Linked DNA regions of Homo sapiens. The protein of the gene in region 2 purifies or fractionates together with the protein of the main gene of each other region. This does not show direct contact. Each region holds a gene or a part of one and is shown on either strand. Other genes may lie near its edges.

What was found. Proteins that work in one complex are often made in the same cells at the same time.
Region 1: the proteins of TEFM (region 2) and HPSE purify together in Homo sapiens (affinity purification with mass spectrometry; one large-scale study listed by BioGRID and IntAct). This does not show direct contact.
Region 3: the proteins of TEFM (region 2) and MAEA purify together in Homo sapiens (affinity purification with mass spectrometry; one large-scale study listed by BioGRID and IntAct). This does not show direct contact.
Region 4: the proteins of TEFM (region 2) and A2ML1 purify together in Homo sapiens (affinity purification with mass spectrometry; one large-scale study listed by BioGRID and IntAct). This does not show direct contact.

The regions. Positions count from the first base shown.
Region 1 is NC_000004.12:83,327,584-83,332,865, forward strand, and holds part of HPSE (heparanase isoform 1 preproprotein), read right to left. Parts: intron 1-5,282. UniProt on the Homo sapiens protein: Endoglycosidase that cleaves heparan sulfate proteoglycans (HSPGs) into heparan sulfate side chains and core proteoglycans. Participates in extracellular matrix (ECM) degradation and remodeling.
Region 2 is NC_000017.11:30,900,390-30,904,547, forward strand, and holds part of TEFM (transcription elongation factor, mitochondrial), read right to left. Parts: intron 4,141-4,158; coding exon 3,677-4,140; intron 174-3,676; coding exon 24-173; intron 1-23. UniProt on the Homo sapiens protein: Transcription elongation factor which increases mitochondrial RNA polymerase processivity. Regulates transcription of the mitochondrial genome, including genes important for the oxidative phosphorylation machinery.
Region 3 is NC_000004.12:1,336,747-1,341,402, reverse strand, and holds the end of MAEA (E3 ubiquitin-protein transferase MAEA), read right to left. Parts: intron 4,543-4,656; coding exon 4,409-4,542; intron 2,982-4,408; coding exon 2,786-2,981; coding exon of another isoform or gene 2,528-2,785; exon of another isoform or gene 2,336-2,527; intron 2,330-2,335; coding exon 2,234-2,329; 3' UTR 1,266-2,233; downstream 1-1,265.
Region 4 is NC_000012.12:8,849,104-8,854,385, reverse strand, and holds part of A2ML1 (alpha-2-macroglobulin-like protein 1 isoform 1 precursor), read right to left. Parts: intron 4,718-5,282; coding exon 4,627-4,717; intron 4,227-4,626; coding exon 4,112-4,226; intron 2,603-4,111; coding exon 2,374-2,602; intron 2,177-2,373; coding exon 2,050-2,176; intron 259-2,049; coding exon 137-258; intron 1-136. UniProt on the Homo sapiens protein: Is able to inhibit all four classes of proteinases by a unique 'trapping' mechanism. This protein has a peptide stretch, called the 'bait region' which contains specific cleavage sites for different proteinases.

The sequences.
Region 1 (5,282 bases), on a different chromosome or scaffold from region 2:
AGCAGTTTGTTAAGGAAAAAAAGGGGGCCTGCAGGTGTTTTTATTTTACCTTTTGTACAAAAATAAGTTACTTCTCTCTGACACAAAAGCAGAGGTGTGCTGGAGTTGGCTGTACCACGTTGTTGGCCTGTGAAAGCCAAATGTTAAATTTGGAGAAAATTTGTGAGCCAGTTGTTAAACTGTTGGCAGTTTGGAATTGGCCATGGAGGGAGTATTTACACCACAGAAATCAGCAAAAACCATCAACCAGTCTCCCCTCTTCCCAGAGAGCCAGTTGTTAAACAGTTTCCAGCACAGTACTGCATGAGCAGTAATTTAAGTAATTTCTGGAAGTGGGTGAGACCACCCAGGGGAATATGTGAAGTGAAAAGAAGGCCTAGGTCAGAAGTCTGAAGAACACCAATGTTTAAGACAAACTAGAGAGAGAGAGATGGAGAGGAATTGTTAGAAAACACCCCCCAACAAGAAAGGCGACAGACCTAAAGGGGTAAGAAAGTGCTTCCATTGTCAACCTTGCCAAATGCCTCCAAGAGACTGTATTAGTTTGTTAGGGCTGCAGTCGCAGAGTACTGCAAACTAATTGGTTTGAACAACAGAAATGTATTGTCTTACAGTTTTGAAAAGCCGAAACGTTGAATTCAAGGTAGTGGCAGGGCCATACTCCCTCTCTAGGCGCAGGAAAGGATTTGTTCCAGGTCTTTCTCCTAAGTTCCCATAGCTTTTTGACTCCAACTCCATAACTCCTGTCATCACATGGTATTCTCCCTATGTGCGTGTCTGTCTCCAAATTTCTCCTTGTTATAAGGACATCAGTCATATTAGATAAGCAGCCCATCACATTCCAGTATGACCTCATCCTAACTAATAACGTCTGCAATGACCCTATTCCCAAATAAAGTCACATTCTGAGGTACTGGGGGTTAGGACTTCTAATATGGATTTCGGGGTAACCTCATTCAACCCATAACAAAGACCAAATAAGATAAAGTGTTTATTAGGTTTCCCAACAAAGGAAGGCCATTGATGATGTCGGAGAGATTGATTTTAGTGACACAATGATGGTGCCATCATGAGGGCAGAACAGGAAGAACAGGCTGCCGAGGGGAGGGAAGAAACGGGGTGGTTTCTGCAGAGGCATGTGCGAGGAGGTAATTGAGATGGGAAAGGCTTGGGGAAAGGCTTGGGGAAAGGCTTGAGGAAGAAGCCAGTAAAATGGGAGGAGTTGAAGATACAGGAGAGGGAAGAGGTGACTGATAGAGCGAAGTCCTTGGGGGTTGGGGAGGGGACGGGATTCAGGGCAGAAATGGAAGAAGCAGACTGAGATCAGAGAAAGGAGGAAAGCTGGACTTAGGCATGACATGTCTGCAGATTTGATGACAGGAGGAAAAGGAAAAGGAAGTAATTGCTCATTTTCTTTGGGAAGCAGAAGTATGGTCATGTGCTAAGAATGATAAGGTGAAGGTGGAGTCAGAGATTTTTAAAAAGTAGAGAATGTGAAAGGCAGAGAAATGGAGAGTTAAGGGTAACACTAAGGGCCAGGGAAGTCTGGAAGCTAAAAAATGTTTGGTGCAACATCAGTCTGTGTGGCTGGGAGACTGTCCACTCCCTCCTCCCGCAAGAGCTCAATAGCCCAGCTATACAGGGTGGCCACTGAGACTGGAAATGAAGCATTAAAATGGCTTATTAATATACATTAAAATTAATAAGTAATATTTTTCCATTTCCAGGTTTTTGGGCCACCCTGTAGATTCCAAAGAGAGAAAATATGGTTGGACTAAACCAGGTTTAGTATTTTAGCAGGAAGAACAATGGAACAGGGATTTGGGGTTATTATTACAAGAGTGGTTCACATGATAAATTAAGAAGCTCAAATCAGATATGGAAGAAGTAGAGAGAGGAAGAAGCTGTTCAGTGGAGGTATTTAAAAATTGTTATGATGGGTGCTATGGAGTAGAAGAGCTATGGTCTGGCTCTCAGAAAAAAAGGTGCTCTGCTTTTTAGTATTTGCCAATTTCCATGGTAAATATTCTCACCATGGCTGATTTCCAGATACCCACAGGATGTCACTGAATACAGAGTTGAGATGAAATGCATACATTTCATGAGCTGGATAAGCTGGTTCTGTTACAACTTGAGTGTAACATTATCTGTTATAAAAAAATGTGAGTGAAGAAACTGAGACAGTTTATCTAGGTGACTTGAAGTCATCTAGGATGATGGTGAGACTAGGAAGTGGAGAGGAAACTGTGAGATCAGTGCCAGTCTTCAGTTAATAAGGGGGAGTAAGTAAGAGGGGGACAGAGTGCCGTAAGCAGGAGCACTGGATGAGAGCCAGATGTGGAGATGAGGAAAACACACTGAGTCATGGCATCACCCGTAATGCACATCAGGCTAGTCTACACTGAGCGTGTAGGGAAGCTACCCGCCTTCTTTCACTCAATTTCAAAATAACCCACTGAAGCAAATGGCATTATTATCGTCATTTTACAAACAAGGAACCTGAACAAAAGGAGGTAATTTGCCCAAGGTAACAAGTCAAAAGGGACTTGAACTATAGCAGTATGGAGTTCAAACTAGTGGGCTGTCATCCAGAAGCCAGACTGGAGAACAGGAAAAGAACTGGACTATGGGAGAATATGCAGCCATTACTCAAAAGGGCTACAGGGAAGACAGTGTCATCAGAGAATAGCCAAGTTGTAGCTTGGACAAGGAGGTAGAGGAGATATTCTGTGAGGAGGACAGAGCAGGTAACCCTGCAAAGGGCTCCAGGGCACAGTGGACAGGGTTAGTGGGGAAGGCAATAATAAGAGCTCAATCAGAGGGACAGCACTTCCCAGGAGTTAGGAGACATGAGGTGTGTGATTGTCCCCAGCCCTTTGTTTCCCTTTGGCTGTGAATATTTCTGCCATCAATAGGCACATGGGGAGTCTGCACCTCTTTCCAACACTGGTTATCAAAACGTGTGTTTAACATTGATAAGTAATTTTCTAAATGTGAAAAGCAACTCTGTCTATGAAGATGCAAGAATCTAATATTGAAAGTTTTTATCAGTAAATATTTATTGAATTGGCAAAAATGGATGAACTTTGCTGAAGGAAAATAAGCAAATTGCAATGAAAAGCAAGCATGGTTGCATTATCACTGAGATTGCTGTTCGTACCACTTTTGCTCTGCAGTATTTAGGATTTCTACCACCGACTCAGCACTATACTTTTTTTTACCGTGCATTAGTGAACTATGCTTGTATACGTGTCTTAATTGAAATGCAGATCTGTACTGTCCACTACCATAGCACTAGCTACATGTGGCTACTGAACGCTTGAAATATAGTTAATCTGAGGCCGGGTGCAGTGGCTCACGCCTGTAATCCCAACACTTTGGGAGGCCGAGGTGGGCATATCACCTGAGCTCAGGAGTTTGAGATTAGCCTGGCCAACATGGTGAAACCCTGTCTCTACTAAAAATACACAATTAGCCAGGCGTGGTGGTGCATGCCTCTAGTCCCAGCTACTTGGGAGACTGAGGCAGGAGAATAACTTGAACCCGGGAGGCGGAGGTTGCAGTGAGCCGAGGTAACGCCATTGTACTCTAGCTTGGGTGACAAGAGCAAAATTGTCTCGGAAAAAAAAAAGAAAGAAAGAAATATAGTCTGAGAAGTGCTGTAAATAATACACGCCAGATTATAGAATAGACTTGGTTTGAGAAAAGGAATAATAAATACCTCATTAATATTTTTATATTGATTACATGCTGAGAAAACATTTTGGATCTATTGAACTAAATAAAATTATTAAAATTAATTTCACTTGTTTCTTTTTACCTTTTTAATATGGCTACTAGAAAATTTAAAATTACATATGACCTTGCATATGAGGCCCACATTATATTATATTTCCATTGGACAGTGTTGATTTAGGGCTGGGCTCTCTTTGGAGTTCTGCACACAGTTAGGCTTAGGAAGTATTTTGATTGGTTTCTTGATTAAGTCCCTCTGGGAAGACGACAAATTGAAAGATTTTTTCTTTCAAATTTTAGATTGCTCTATCATTGGTATTTAAGTTTTGTGTGGAGTTGGGCTGTACACAATGTATTTGCCATCATGGAGACTAGAACCACGCCAGTGACTAAGTTTGCTTAGGCCTCTTTGAAGTACCTTAGATGAAGGTTTGGGCCCTGATACTGTTACTCTCATGTGAATGCTTCTTTTCATTATATCAATCTCTCAATTCCTTTCCAAACAATCTTTTTCTACCATATCCTACTCTCTTTCCTTTAAAAAATATAATCTGCTTTCCCTTTTTATGGGCACTATTATCTCATGTGATCAGAGTCTAGTTTCAAACTGTGGCCAAGTTACTTAACCTCCCTGAGCCTCACTTTCTTCATTTTTAAAATGGGGGTGACAAAACTAGTCACTCACAGTGTTGTAGCCAAGACTAAATGGATTAATACCTAGAAGGTGCTTAGAACAGGGCCAGGCAAATGACAAGAACTGAGGAAGTGTCAGCTGTTTGTGTCCTCCTCTCTTTCCTTATTCCTTCAGCTTTCGTCTGCTCAGCTCTTGCCATCCCGCCCACACATCTTCACTTTTGAGGAACTGTAATAAATTAAACAACAGGCGTCTTACTCTCCTCTACTGTGGACCCCTACAAAGCTTAGTGTTGTCTTCTGAGATGGCTGGGCTGTTTGGGCCCTGTGCCCCTCCTGGGGAGATGGACCCTCACACTCTAATTTAGAAGCTAGGTCTTAGATGAGGAGAGGGGGTTCCTCCCTCTTTTAGGTCTTAGCAGATAACACTCTGGGTGTGCTTGTCGATGCGTCTGGGGAGCAGGTATGGCAGATGGCCTCTCCAAGCGAAGCGGGCTGGAACAGACAGCAGCCAGCCTTGGAGAGAAGCACGTATGGACAAGAATGAACTGTTTTGTAAACCAGAAAAAAAGTTTTATGTATCACATGTTATGCTCTCTTGGTATTTCATTATACTCCAGTCTTTAACAAAAAGGTGCAGAGGAGGGGAAAAAAGGGTGCTCTGGGAAATGAAGAGATGTATTTAAGAAGAATAAAGGTATCATCCTCACTAAATTGCAGATTGGAATTTCTACGTGTTAGGGGGGTGTTAGTCAATTGCGGGGAGCTTGACTGCTGGGTGATCAGGCCCAGATCCTGGAAGTCCCACTGTATGTTTTTTCTTTTGGACCTGTTACTCCAGGGGGGAACCCCCATCTGTCCTTTCTTGGGGAGAGGTTGGGGAATATGCTGGCTACAGCAATAGAAGAGGCCTC
Region 2 (4,158 bases):
ATCTGGAGGTGCAACTGCCTTACCTCTTCTAAATAGACTGATGATGAGTATATTCCTCTCATTAAACTCCAACGGTCACTTTGCTGCCAGTCCAGCACTGTCAACTTACGATCAAGGTGAGCCCAGGCAATTCTTCGAGTACCAAAAACGATAGATATGATACTATTAACTGCCTAAAAGAAAAGACTGATTTAATTAGAAGTATAAACATTTTAGTTTTTTCTTTTTTTGAGACGGAGTCTCGCTCTGTCTCCCAGGCTGGAGTGCAGTGGCGCGATCTCAACTCACTACAAGCTCCACCTTCTGGGTTCATGCCATTCTCCTGCCTCAGCCTCCCGACTAGCTGGGACTACAGGCGCCCGCCACCACGCCCGGCTAATTTTTTTATTTTTTTTTTTAGTAGAGATGGGGTTTTACTGTGTTAGCCAGGATAGTCTCGATCTCCTGATCTCATGATCCACCTGCCTTGACCTCCCAAAGAGCTAGGATTACAGGCATGAGCCACCGTGCCTGGCCAGAAGTGTAAATATTTTAGATGCAAACATAATCTACAAATTCAGAATGCCTAACTAGTTTATGTAATATAAACTTATTTATAGTTTATGAACTGAGAATTATTAAAGAAATGCAGGAGTAATTATTATTTTGTTTGAGATGGAGTCTCGTTCTGTCACCCAGGCTAGAGTGCAGTGGCGCAATCAGCTCACTGCAACATCCACCTCCCAGATTCAAGCAATCCTTCTGCCTCAGCTTCCTGAGTAGCTGGGATTACAGGTACCTGCCACCACACCCAGCTAATTTTTGTATGTTTAGTAGAGACAGGGTTTCACCATGTTGGCCAGGCTGGTCTTGAGCTCCTGACCTCAAGTGATCCACCTGCCTCTGCCTCCCAAAGTGCTGGGATTACAGGTGTGAGCCACCAAGGAGTAATTATTATTAAAAGGTAACCAGCAGCAGTCAGTTTATAGATAAAGGACCTATACTCATTCTCAGCACCTTGCCCAAAGTAGGCATTCAAACTCAAGTGTAGCCAAGGTCTGCACTAGATACTAGGAAACAACAAACGTAACTGTACATTATAAGAAATGCCACCATAAAACTATTGTAGAGAGAAGTGGTCAGGGAAGGTTTACTGGAGGACTAGGAGAATGAGACAGTAAATGGGAAGTTATTTCACCCAGATGTCTGGAAAGATAGGCTGTTTGACATCTCACACTCTGGCAGTAGAATAAAGACTGAATAGGAAAAGGGCAGAGGACAAGGCAGATGTCTATAAAGGTAAGTAACTTGCTTTATCCTGAGTGCTACAGGGGCCACTAAAAAAACAGAATTTTAAGGAATAACATAAGATTTACATTTCAGAAAAATCACTGATGGTGTAAAAGATGGGCTGGAGGGAACTAAAGGTAGGGATCTGTGTTAGGTACCTGTTACAACATGAGAAAGTGTTAAGAATTGAAGACAATGACAGAAGGAAAAGAAACAGATAGTGGGAGCAGAATTAATACATAGGTTTAACGAGGAGTCTAGAATAATTCCAGTTTTATATCAGTGACTGAATGGCATCATTAATGATGACGAAGATAGGAGTCACATGACCTAGGGAAGGTGGGAAGAAATTTTTTTGTTTTGTTTTGGTTTGTTTTTAATGCATTAAGTTTGGGTTGCCTATAGGGCTTCTAAGAGGAGATATATAATAAGTAATTGAATATTTAGATTTTGCTTCCTATCAAGTCTGGGCTGACGATGAAGTACAATGCTATCACCTTTCCCCAACATGGCTCACTTAGTTATATTAACAAACTAATATGTTCTATAGATACAGAGGCAAATAAACAGGAACAATTAGTTGTATACCCATCTCCCTTTCATTGCTAAGGACTGGATAAATATCTTAAAGACAAAATAGTATAGATGCCCAAAATACAGACTTCCTTTTGGTTTTCTTTAGCTAAGTGACTCTCAAGCTTTACTGTGCACAAGCATTACTGAACCAGACTACACACAATACTTCGTCGGCAATCGATTTTTTCTTAAAGGATTTTACTGCATGACTTATATCTCCATAAAAACTGACTTAAAATCCAGCCCCCTAAATAAGATGCAACTCCACTCTAATCTGGGTATAAATAGTTTTGGCCATGAATCTGGATGAGAATCCTCCCTGAAGAATTTGGTTAAAATATGTTCCAGATCAATTGCAGCAGTTCTACTTGGAGTCCATGAGTGGACTTAACAGAATCTGCCAGTCCTCTGAAACTGTGTAGTATTCTGTGTATATGTGCTATATCTTTTTCTATGGGAAGAGGGTCCACAGCTTTCATCAGGTTTTCAAAAGTACCCATATTCCTCAAAAAACGGACCCACTGGTCCAGAAAAAAAATGGTGCTTATGATTTTTATGAGATAATGATTATCAAGCAATGTTACACAGGACATGAGTTCCTCTAAAGTTTAATACTTGAGTGCTGTGGCCGGGCGCAGTGTCTCACACCTGTAATCTCAGCACTTCGGGAGCCCGAGGCAGGTGGATCACGAGGTCAACAGATCAAGACCATCCTGGCGCCAACATGGTAAAACCTCATCTCTACTAAAAATACAAAAATTAGCTGGGCGTGGTGGCATGTGCCTGTAGTTTCAGCTACTCAGGAGGCTGAGGCAGGAGAATCGCTTGAACCTGGGAGGTGGAGGTTGTTGTGAGATCATGCCACTGTACTCCAGCCTGGCGACAGCACAAGACTCTGTCTCAAAAAAAAAAAAAAAAAAAAAATTGGCTGTGTCAAATATTTCTAGTATTTATTTTTTTAAGACAATAGAAAAAGAATTGCTTTTAGAATGGTGTTTTTTTTTTTTTTTTGAGACAGAGTCTTGCTCTGTAGCCAGGCTGGAGTGCACTGGCGTGATGTCAGCTCACTGCAACCTCTGCCTCCCAGGTTCAAGAGATTCTCCTGCCTCAGCCTCCCGAGTAGCTGGGACTACAGGCCCACGCCACCATGCCCAGCTAAATTTTGTATTTTTAGTAGAGATGGGCTTTCACCACATTGGCCAGGATTGTCTGGATCTCTTGACCTTGTGATCCGCCCGCTTTGGCCTCCCAAAGTGCTGGGATTACAGGTGTGAGCCAGCCGCTTTTTTTTTTTTTTTTTAATCTTACCTATAGACTTGCATGATTCAAGATAAAATGCTTTTTAAAGGAGAAAAGGTACAGAAAATAATTTTAAATTCTGCCGGAAAGACTGGTATAATGTTCTAAAGTCACTCACTGGCCATAACCTATCTTTGCTCCTTAATTTCTCATTAATCCTAACATCACCCTTAGACACAGCCTGGTATCTCCAACGACACTCCTCTTAAATAAGCCTTGCCTAGACCTGCTTCTCAGCATCAACTGTTCTTTCTACCTACAATGCCCTCCTCTCCCATCCAAAGGATCTCTCTTTTAAGACCTAAATTGAGTTCTTCCAGTAAACTTTCCACAACAGTCACAGCCCATTGTTTTCTCTCCTCTCAACTGCCAATTTACTATCTGTACATCTCATTATTTGGTAGTGATCATATACTTGCCAACTAAACCTGAAGAACCCTGTCTTAGCCACTTCCCAACCCAATGCCCAGAAGAGTGCTTTCTAGAGTAGGTTCTCAAATATTAGGCAGTATAGCAGACATGAAGAATATACCTTAAGTCTTTCTCTTTCTATGTCTGGTTTGAGGAGCTTTCTCAGGAACCGGTTTTCCGGTGACTTTCTTTTTTCCCGTCCAGTCTTTGGACAAAGTATGGAGTTACAAACTTGAACTGTACTTTTATACTTAAACAAGGGCACATTCATTAAACTCTCTAAATTCTGAAATGGCCCAAAGTTTTCTCTGTGCTCTACGATATTGATGGACCTTCTTCCACGAAGCAATCGGAAAGCTTCAAGTTCTTTAGTAGATGCTGTATTCAACACATGCAAGATGGAAGCCTGCTGTTCTGAAGAGAAGAGCTTGTCAAGTGCATTTTCGGGCTCCTTTGCATTTTCATCACAAAAAGTAACATTGGGAGTAATTTTCTTAGGTGTAGTGGATTTTTTCCGACAGCAGAAATTATGTAAGGCCCAGTACAGGGATGACCTCGACGGGGTCAGAAAGCATCTCCACCTCTCTAAAAGGAAAATTTAGC
Region 3 (4,656 bases), on a different chromosome or scaffold from region 2:
TTGTATGTGCATTTTGGTGTATGTAATTTTTACCTCAATTGAGAAAGAGTACAGCGAGATAACACAACCAACAAAACATCTCACATTCAAGACTCCCAGTGCCACTCGCTGGTGTGGATGTGGAGCAGATGGGCAGAAGTGGGTGCAACCCCTTTAACAAACCGTCAGTGTCTGCTGAGTGGACACGTGGCCCAGCAATGGCAACTCCTCGGCATCTCCCCACAAAAGAATGATGCGTCCAGCAAGGGTCACCTCCCGGAGTGCTCACAGCAGCTTTACCTGGACACCGCCTGATGTCCACCGGCGGGAGAGGGGCCAGGCCGCTGCGCTTGTTCTGCCTGGAGAGCACAGGCCTGTAACCAGGCAAGACTTTGCCGTGCCAGGGCTGAGCCGCCGAGTAACGCTGAGCCACGGACCCACGCCATGTGGCTCTGTGTTCGAGGAGCTCAGGGCCGGGGTGCGCCACTCCAATGATGACTGACCAGGATATTGACCGGGCAAGGCCAGGGGCTGGGAACAGTCTGTTTGGTGGTTACATGCATGTTACACAGAAATTCGTTATGTGAACTTAGAATGTGTGTGCTCCAGTATGTTCTACTCGAGTTAAAAAGGAAAGAACAGGACGCAAGACAAGGAAAGCCCCTGCACGTGAGGACGGTGGAGGCCGGGGCGGCTGCGTGGCAGTGGGGCCACAGGGTCTGCTTCGGCCGAGGGGACCTGGGGACGGGCGCTCCAAAGAAGAGCACGTGGGAATGTGGTGGGTTCCAGCTGGGTGCTGTGGAGGGGCCAGGGCAGCCACCATGGGGTAAGAGATGGGCTAAGGGGCACCAGGCTGGCCACAGGAGCTGCGACGGGGCACTGGAGAGAACAGGGGTGGGCGGTGGGGGGAAGGGCCAGTGGCCACAGCCCGCAGGCCTCCTTAGCCCAACCCTAGACTCAGCCCAAGCCGCAGGCCCAGGCTTGCTGGTGGCTGCAGCCTGAGCCCCCACCCCCAACAGACAATGGCCCGTGGGTCCCAGGAACCAGTGTCTGATTCACCCAGCTGCAAGCCGGGGCCTCAAGACGCTGGGGCCATCACGCCTCAGGGCAGCGCCCGAGAGGAGGACTGCGGTCCGGGCAGGAGTGGCCTCCAGCCGGCTTCTCAACTCCCGGTGGCCGTGGTGCCAGAAGCTACGCATATGCCCGCCATGCTGCCCGGGCCCCGGGGAGGAGCAGAACACAACCTCGGTGTTAGAAACGCACGGCAGCCTCGGCTCACACGGAAATGAGAAATAGAAAACCATTTTATTCGCATGGTTTACATTTACAGTTTATTAGCTAGTCAACATCAACATGCAAAAATAAGCACTAACTACAAACCTCTACGATACGGTTCTCTGTCAGCTACGGTGGTTCATTTGTTTTGAAAAGTCATCAGTACTTCTTTCAACTGAACGATTAATTTCTGTAATGGATAGCAATTAGACTCTACAGTTATGGAACCATCCGGCAAGGCCTCTGCAGAAATTTGGTCCCGTGGATTTCCACGTTATACATTCTCGAAGCAGGAAGTAAGGCGGCACACAGAGGGTGTGATATCGAAACGACGCAGCTACGAACACAGCCCCGCGATGTGATATCGAAACTATGCACGTACGAACACAGTCCCGCGGACACGACCCGCGAGGCAGGCGGGCGTCCTCGAAGCCAGCCCCCGACGGTGGCGGCGCCAGGCGTTTTGGCAGCAGCTCTCGAATGAAGCCATAAGTGTCCCTCGTGGCGCGGCATCGCGGGTCACTGCAGGTCAGTCCGGTGCCGCTGCCACCTTCCCCGGCCAGGCCAGGGCCAACAGGAAGTGGTGAAGGACCAGCCCGTTCTCCAAGTCTCATCGTTCACAGAAGGAAAGAAACTGAAAACACAGGGAAATCACGGACTCCTATATTTTAAACGTTCTTAAGTTTCCCTCGGTGTTTAGGTCAGTCTTTAAAGAAGAGTTTCCTTCGCAAGTTGAAAGTACTTTTCAGAAGCATCAAATGGTTGACGTGTTACAAAATCCTACCAATCCAAATGTTTTCAAGTACAAACTTATGAAACCTTATTTTCTCTCTTCCTAAGAGTATTTATCGTTGCTCACGGATCTTTGGTCGCAAGAAACAGAAACGCCGCGGCAGGCTGGAGCGTGGGACAGGAGGAAGGCGTGGCCTCCCCGCCCACTGCAGCCCGTCCCCGAGGCGTGCGCTTCACGACGTGGGGCCTACATGATGTACACCTTCTCGGCTTGTGAGAAGTGGAAGACTTCTTTGGTTCTCGGGCACACGACTTTATCATCTTGACGGATAGAAAGCAGAGACTGAAAAATAAAACCGGGAATGCATTAAGGCAAGCGACTACAACGTACACACGGATTTCCATGGAAAATCCCCACAATGAACCACCAGGGAATGACTCATCCTCTCAGGCAAAGTTCCTTCCCGAAGGCACACCTGCCAAAGAAATCCCGGGGCCACCTCGCCTGTCCTTCCCACCCCTTCATCCATTTCGAACGAAGCTAAGGCAGGGTGGGGCGAGAGGACAGCCCTGTCCCAATGGCGACGTGTGCCAGCCTGGCCCCGCTGCCCTGCCCGCCCCACACAGCCCTGTCCCGATGGCGACGCGTGCCAGCCTGGCCCCCCGCCCTGCCCGTCCCACACAGCCCTGTCCCGATGGCGATGCGTGCCAGCCTGGCCCCCCTGCCCTGCCCGTCCCACACAGCCCTGTCCCGATGGCGATGCGTGCCAGCCTGGCCCCCCTGCCCTGCCCCCCTCACATTGTAGCCGTAGACGTAGCCGTTGGGCAGCATCATGGGCGGATTGTTCTCGTTCATCACGTCGCCAGAAATCTTGCAGACCAGGCGGGAGTTGGCACAGTGGGCCATGGGCAGGGGCTGCGCCAGCTTGTTCAGGGAGCGGCTGCACACAGGGCAGTCAGGGCTCTTGGAGCTGCCGTCCTCCTTGTAGCACTGTCTGAGCATCGGGTCAAGGAAGGGTTGGGGGCCACTCAGGGCAGCCGGGGTGAGCCCAGCCCCCTGTGGCCACTCTGCCCTGGGCTGCGTGCCCTTCTGGCTATGTGGGCGCCATGCTGACTACACGGGGCTGTCTTTCGAGGCACAGGAAGTGCTGCACTCGACAGCTAAACAGCCCCACTGAGGCCTCGGTGGAGACAAGAAGCCTGCGCCTTCTCACCCCGGCCTCCAGCACCAGGACCACAGGCACAGAGTGGCTCCGTCGCCCGCCGCCCTCTCCCCGGCCACGCAACCTCTCCAGGCAGGACAAGAGCCACCCAGCAGGGACGTTCTGCTGGCACCTAGGAACAGGCAGTGGGCAAGCACGCCAGCCCTCTCGCCCAGAGTTCCACAAAGAGGGGACAAGGGAGGGGGCCTGAGTCTCATTCATACCCCGGCACAGCCAGGTACCAGCAGCAATCGCGAAACACTCACTGCCCTCTGGGCCTGAGGCAGGTCACATGAAAGACATTCATAGGCGGGGACAGAGTCAGTTGCAGGAGGACAGTCAGTCACAGGTGGGGACAGAGTCAGTCACAGGTGGGGACAGAGTCAGTCACAGGAGAGGGCAGAGTCAGTCACAGGCAGGGGTAGAGTCAGTAAGAGGCTGAGTCACAGGCAGGACGGAGTCAGTCACAGGTGAGACAGTCACAGGGCAGGGGCAGAGTCAGTCACAGGCGAGGACAGAGTCACAGGCGGGATGGACTCAGTTGCAGGAAGGGACAGACTCAGTCGCAGGCAGGGGCAGAGTCTGTCACAGGCAGGAAGAAGTCAGTTGCAGGTGGGACAGAGTCAGTCACAGGAAGGAATCAGTCACAAACGGGACAGACTCAGTCACAGGCAGGGCCACAGTGAGTCGCAGGCAGGGACCAAGTCCGTTGCAGGCGGGAGCCGAGTGAGTCACAGGCAGGAACTCAGTGAGTCGCAGGTGGGACAGAGTCACAGGCAGGATGGAGTCAGTCACAGGCAGGGACAGAGTCACAGGCAGACAGAGTCGGTCACAGGTGGGACAGAGTCAGTCACAGGCGGGACAGAGTCAGTCACAGGCAAGGTTCTTGGTAATCACACGGGAAAACTATTCTGAATGGTAATCTGCCGGCTGCCAGAACACATCAAAATCGGGCTTTTAGATCAATGCCCATGGCGGCCTCTGAGATGATGAGAGAGGAAGCGCGCCACTTCCCAGAGTGAAGGCTGCACGACGCATCCGAGGCCCCTCAACACGGCCCCACCCCGACCATCCAGACACCACGCAAGTGCAGCACACGGGAGCTCGGGGCTGTCTGTGGTGGGAGGACAAGAGTGGCAAGGTGCAGGGTCAGCGTGTTAAAATATGACCAAAGATGCCAACCCCAGGCCAAACCGCACTGCGCACGGGAGGTAGGATACGGTGTCTTGATGGCTGAGAGGCCAGCCTGCAGGGTGAGGGTGAACACAGAATTGTTTCCCAGCTGGTGTAGTCGGTAGTTGTCGTACCGGAACTGCTGGATCAGCATCCGCCACCGTGCAGGGTCCAGAAGGTCCTGGAAGACAGAGAGCAGAGGGTCCTGGGGATGCTCCCAGGGAAGCTCCTGGGACAGCTTAAAAACGTGGACCATGGTGAAGCAGGTGCCATCGGCCCACAGCCATCCCCCAGT
Region 4 (5,282 bases), on a different chromosome or scaffold from region 2:
AGGGGCCAGGGAAGGAGAAAGTTGAAGCTGCCTGGTTGGACTGGAGTATGGTTGCTGTGAGAGACTAACTCACAGCAAGACGAGATGCTGAGCATCCCTCGGTTGGTTGCTGTCTCTACCTCTGAAGAAAACTCACTTTGACGAGAACTGGCTTGATGAGCGTGTCACTTCGGCCCTTTTGGGGAACAAACCCCTTCTGGCCCCCACATGGTTCATTGCTGTCCAGAATCTTTGTACTAATAGTAAAGTTAATGTGACCTGAGAGAAAGAAGAAGGGAAGCCATTAGCCCTATTGCCAGAGGTACCAGTGAGGTCCATTCCCATTTGGATCAGCATTTCTGAAACTTTAATGGGGATCTTGCAACAGTGCAAACTCTGCTGCCATAGACCTGGGGTGGGGCCCATATTCTGCATTTCTAACAAGCTCCCAGGTGATGCCAGAGAGGCTAGTCCAGTGTGGTAGGTAACCTCTAAGGGCCCTCAGAGATCCCTGCATCCTGATATTTACATCCATTGAGTGTGAGCTGGATTGAGTGACTCGCTTCTGTTAAAGAGAACAGGGTGAAAGTAATGACTCTTCTGGGATTAGGTTACAAAAAAGACTGCAGCTTCCATCTTGGGTGCACCCCTTTTCTCAAACTGCTTGCTCTGGGGAAGACAGCTGTTGTGTGATGAGGCAGCCCAGCAGAGAGATTCATGTGATGAGATACTGAGTGAGGCCCCTAGCCAAAAGCTGAGGTCAAGAACTGTGTCCTTCAGTCTAGCAGCCTGTAAGGATCAGAGACTTTGGGATGAGCTTGAAAAATCAATCCTCTCCTAGTCGAGTCTTCAGATGAAACCAGAGTCCTGACTGACAGCTTGATTGCAACCTCATGAGATACCTTGAGCCAGAGGTACCCAGCTAAGCTGCACCCAGATTAATGACCCATAGAATCTGTTTGATAATGTTTGTCCTTTTATGACACTTAAGTTTTACAATAATTTGTCAAGCAACATGAGATAACTCATACATATGAAAATCAAACTTTGAGTTGCAAGGATTTAATCTATGAGTGACTGACATCCCATAGGGTTGGGGGTGAGGATTAAACAAGTTAAAGGTGCAGTGACTCATTCTTGTAATCCCAGTACTTTGGAAGGGTGAGGCGGGAGAATCACTTGAACCCAGGAGTTTGAGAACAGCCTGGGCAACAGAGCAAGACCGCTTCTCTGCCAACTGAATTAGCCAGGCATGGTGGTGGCATGAGCCTATAGTCCCAGCTACTCCGGAGGCCTAGGTGAGAGGATCGCTTGAGCCTGGGAGGTTGAGGCTGCAGTGAGCAATGACCACACCACTGTACTCCAGCTTAGGTGACAGAGTAAGATCTTGTCTCTCTAAAAAAAAATAAAAGGCCAGGCGCAGCGGCTCACGCCTGTAATCCCAGCACTTTGGGAGGCCGAGGCAGGCAGGTCACCTGAGGTCAGGAGTTTGAGACCAGCCTGGCCAACATGGCAAAACCCCACCTCTACTAAAAGTACAAAAATTAGCCGGGTAGGGTGGCACGCGACTGTAATCCTAGCTACTTGGGAGGCTTGGCAGGAGAATCACTTGAACCCAGGAGGTGGAGGTTGCAGTAAGCACAGATTGCACCACTGCACTCCAGCCTGCGCAACAGAGCGAGACTTCCTCTCAAAAATAAATAAATAAAATAAAAATTAATTAGTCAATCAATTTAATGAGTTAATATATGTAAAGCAGTTAGAATAGTGCCTGGCCCAGGGACTCTTATAGTAAGTCCTTGATTAGTTACATGACCATGTATTCCTTGTCCAGCTATAAATATTAAAAGCTCTCCCTTTCACACTCAAAATATTCCGGTTTGAACAAATTTGTTTGGTCACCTATCAAAGAGTGTTTGTGTATTGACTTATAACAGCCTTAGGAGGGAGAAAAATAGTGGAAAATGGAGGAGGAAGCAAAGCAGATGTGGCAGAGGAAAAGACTGAGTGCTCAGTCACTGGTCTTCTGCTGCTGGCTTTCCTCGCCCGTCTACCACTTCCCTCTCTTACCCAATTTGACAGCTGTGATGTTCCAGTGGTGGGTTTTTGCGTCATCAGCACAGAGACAACTGGAGGTCTGAGAATCTGCCCATGATTCTAGCTGGTACTCATGCGATTTAGCCAGGTCAGTCTGAACCTACGGAGGATGTTTAAGAGACAAAGGGTACAAACAAAGGAGGTAGTGCATAGAGGCCTGGGGAAACCTGGGGGCTGAGACGCCGACATCTCCTCTCTTTCCCAGGGAAAATTGGGATGCTTCCAATTTAGAGACAAACTTATGGGGGAGGTGTGATTCCAGGGCTGACACCTGATTCCTGTATCCCCAGCTCTCACCCTGATGCAATCCTTTAGGTAATTGAAGATGGTGGCAGTAAGACGAAAGGATTCCCCACGGACTACTGAGTAAGGGAGAGTCAGGTCAACAAAGAACGGCTTGAAAGCAGTTAGTCCAACAGTGGGTGAAAGCCCGAAGCCTCTTGACTGGGAAGTGCAGAAACTCATCGCCTTCCACTCGGTGATGGCGTCAGGAACTGTGACGTGGACCGCCTCCTTCCCCGAGTTACTGTGAAAACACAAGGACCAACATGAGGCAGAGGTAGCGTGGGGCAAGGAGAACATTTGTGAATTAAGCCACAAATTCGGTGGGGTGTGCTGGCTTACACTTGTAATCCCAGCTCTTTGAGAGGCTGAGGTGAGCAGATAGCTTCAGCCCAGCAGTTTGAGGCCAGCCTGGGAAACATAGCAAGACCCTATTTCTACCAAAAATTTAAAAATTAGCCAGGTGTGGTGGTGCATGCCTATAGTCCCAGCTACTTAGGAGGCTGAGGCAGGAGGATTGCTTGAGCCCAGGAGTTTGAGGCTGCAGTGAGCTATGATTGCACCACTGCACTCCAGCCTGGGTGACAGGGCAAGACCCTGTCCAAAAAAAAAAAGCTACAAATTCATCTGCAGAAGTAAAATTGTTATTGTTATTGTATGGGGAGAAGTAAAGAGGCAACTGAACAGGTGAGTCTCAGTGTGAGTGAGGCTGCACTCATACGGAGGAGGGGGACTATGGTGGGGAGTCGGGGTGGGCATCTCTGTGCAAGCACATCTGACAGAGAGGCTGGTGCCCTCTGAGTCTGAGGATGTGTGGTCTCAGGGCTTGTCAAAATGGATATGCAAGCAGTGAGCAAAAATTGATGTCAATATATACCTTTAAATGTGTGTGGTTCTGTAGTGAGAACACAGGGCCTGCAATGTGTGAGTGTGGAATTGTGTGGATTTGTTTTGAGTGGTTGTATATGAATGCATGAAGAATTCAGGTAGGCCGGGCGCAGTGGCTCACACCTGTAATCCCAACACTTTGGGAGGCCAAGGCGGGTGGATCACTTGAGGCCAGGAGTTCAAGACTAGCCTGGCCAACATAGCAAAACCCTGCCTCTACTAAAAATACAAAACTTAGCCAGGTGTGGTGGCATGTGCCTATAGTCCCAGCTACTTGGGAGGCTGAGGCACAAGAATTGCTTGAACCTAGGAGGTTGAGGCCTACAGTGAGCCAAAATCATGCCACTGCACTCCAGCCTGGGTGACAGAGCAAGACTCTGTCTTAAAAATAAAAAGAAAAAAAGAATTCCGGAAAATAAATAAATTCCCACACCCCATCAAGCTTTCTTTGCTTAAGATTTAGATCCATTAGGAATGCGTCTGATTCTGAGTTTTCTACAGGCTCTACATTGCAGAATCTTACTGTTTTTTTTCTGGGTTTGTTGTTGTCGTTGTCGTTGTTGATTTTGAGAAGGGTTTTGCTCTGTCACCCAAGCAGGAGTGAAGCAATGTGATCTTGCTTCACTGCAGCCTCCACCTCCCAGACTCAAGTGATCCTTCCACCTCAGCCTTCCAAGTAGGACACAACTACCATCTGGCTATTTTTTTAATTTCTTTTGTAGAGACAGAAGCTCATTATGTTGCCCAGGCTGGTCTTGAACTCCTGGTCTCAAGTGATCCTCCCTCCTAAGCCTCCCAAAGTGTTGGGATTACAGGCGTGAGCCATGCACCTGGCCCTTTACTGTACTTTTGAGTCATCACTTACCCAATAGGAAACAGATCCCAGAGCCAGGTCTCTGGGAAGTACTGGCGGACCTGAGAATCCTCTGCTTGATGTAAAGGAGTTGATGACTCAAAAGCCTCTGGATGACCACCGCCTGCTGATGAAATTGAGAATACGAAAACTTTAGGAAACAGGAGACTTCTTGTTGTGACATAAATTGGGATGGAGGGATTACTAGAAAGAAATTTAGAGGGAAGCAGAGAACATCCAGTCAGAGGCAAGGAGGAAGGACCAAAGAGGAACTAACTAGTCACAAAGGCCATCGAGGGAAGTGATAGCCAAGGAGGTTTGGCCGGGGAATGGATACATAAGCTTCAGGCTTCAAAAGCTCTCCCCAGAGAGAGAACACTTGGGAAACTGTCCTGCATCTGTGACCCACAACCCATTAGCATTCTCGGGCTAGAGGCTCAGTGCAAGAACAGGAGGCAAGAGGAAATCTGCAGAGTTCCAGGACTGTTAACATCTCAGAGAATCCACAGACCACAGAGGTGGCTTACCACCCATAGCAGTGCTGTATTCTGGAGATCTGTGACTGCAATCTACTGGCTTCTTGATTTTGGCATTGGACAGTATTTTCAGGCCCACGTCCTGATAGGCATCAGAGAAATAAGTATTAAGGTGGTCCCTTCCCCAACTACAAGGGCTACTGCCCAGGAATTCCACCATCAAAGAGTTGAAACAAAACATTCTTTTTGAATTAATGGTGAACCTGGGTGTTCTTACCTGAAACTCAGCCACTGAGGCTGGTTGGCTTCTGTTCCAGCTAGCATGAAAGGCTTTCAGTTAAACTTATTTCATCATTACATACATGTAATGGTTCTGCCAAATATTATTCGCTATGTCCTTACTATTTGACTTACGCTGTAAACATGCTGAGGGTAGGGACCATATCAGCGTACTCAATTCAACAAAAATACAATGAGCCTTATGAAGGGTCAGGCATTAGAGAGAATACAAAGATGAACAAGACCTAGTTCCTGACCTCAGGGACCTCCTGGTCAGACTTGGGTCACACAGCATCCCAAATCCTGCTCATAGAATAGGTGCAAATTATTTTTTATAATAATGATAAGAGACCTCTGGTCTACCTTCTCTAATTTTCCCTCCTGATTGATCTCATGGAAATCAGTGTTTGAGGACAACAAAAAGAGGA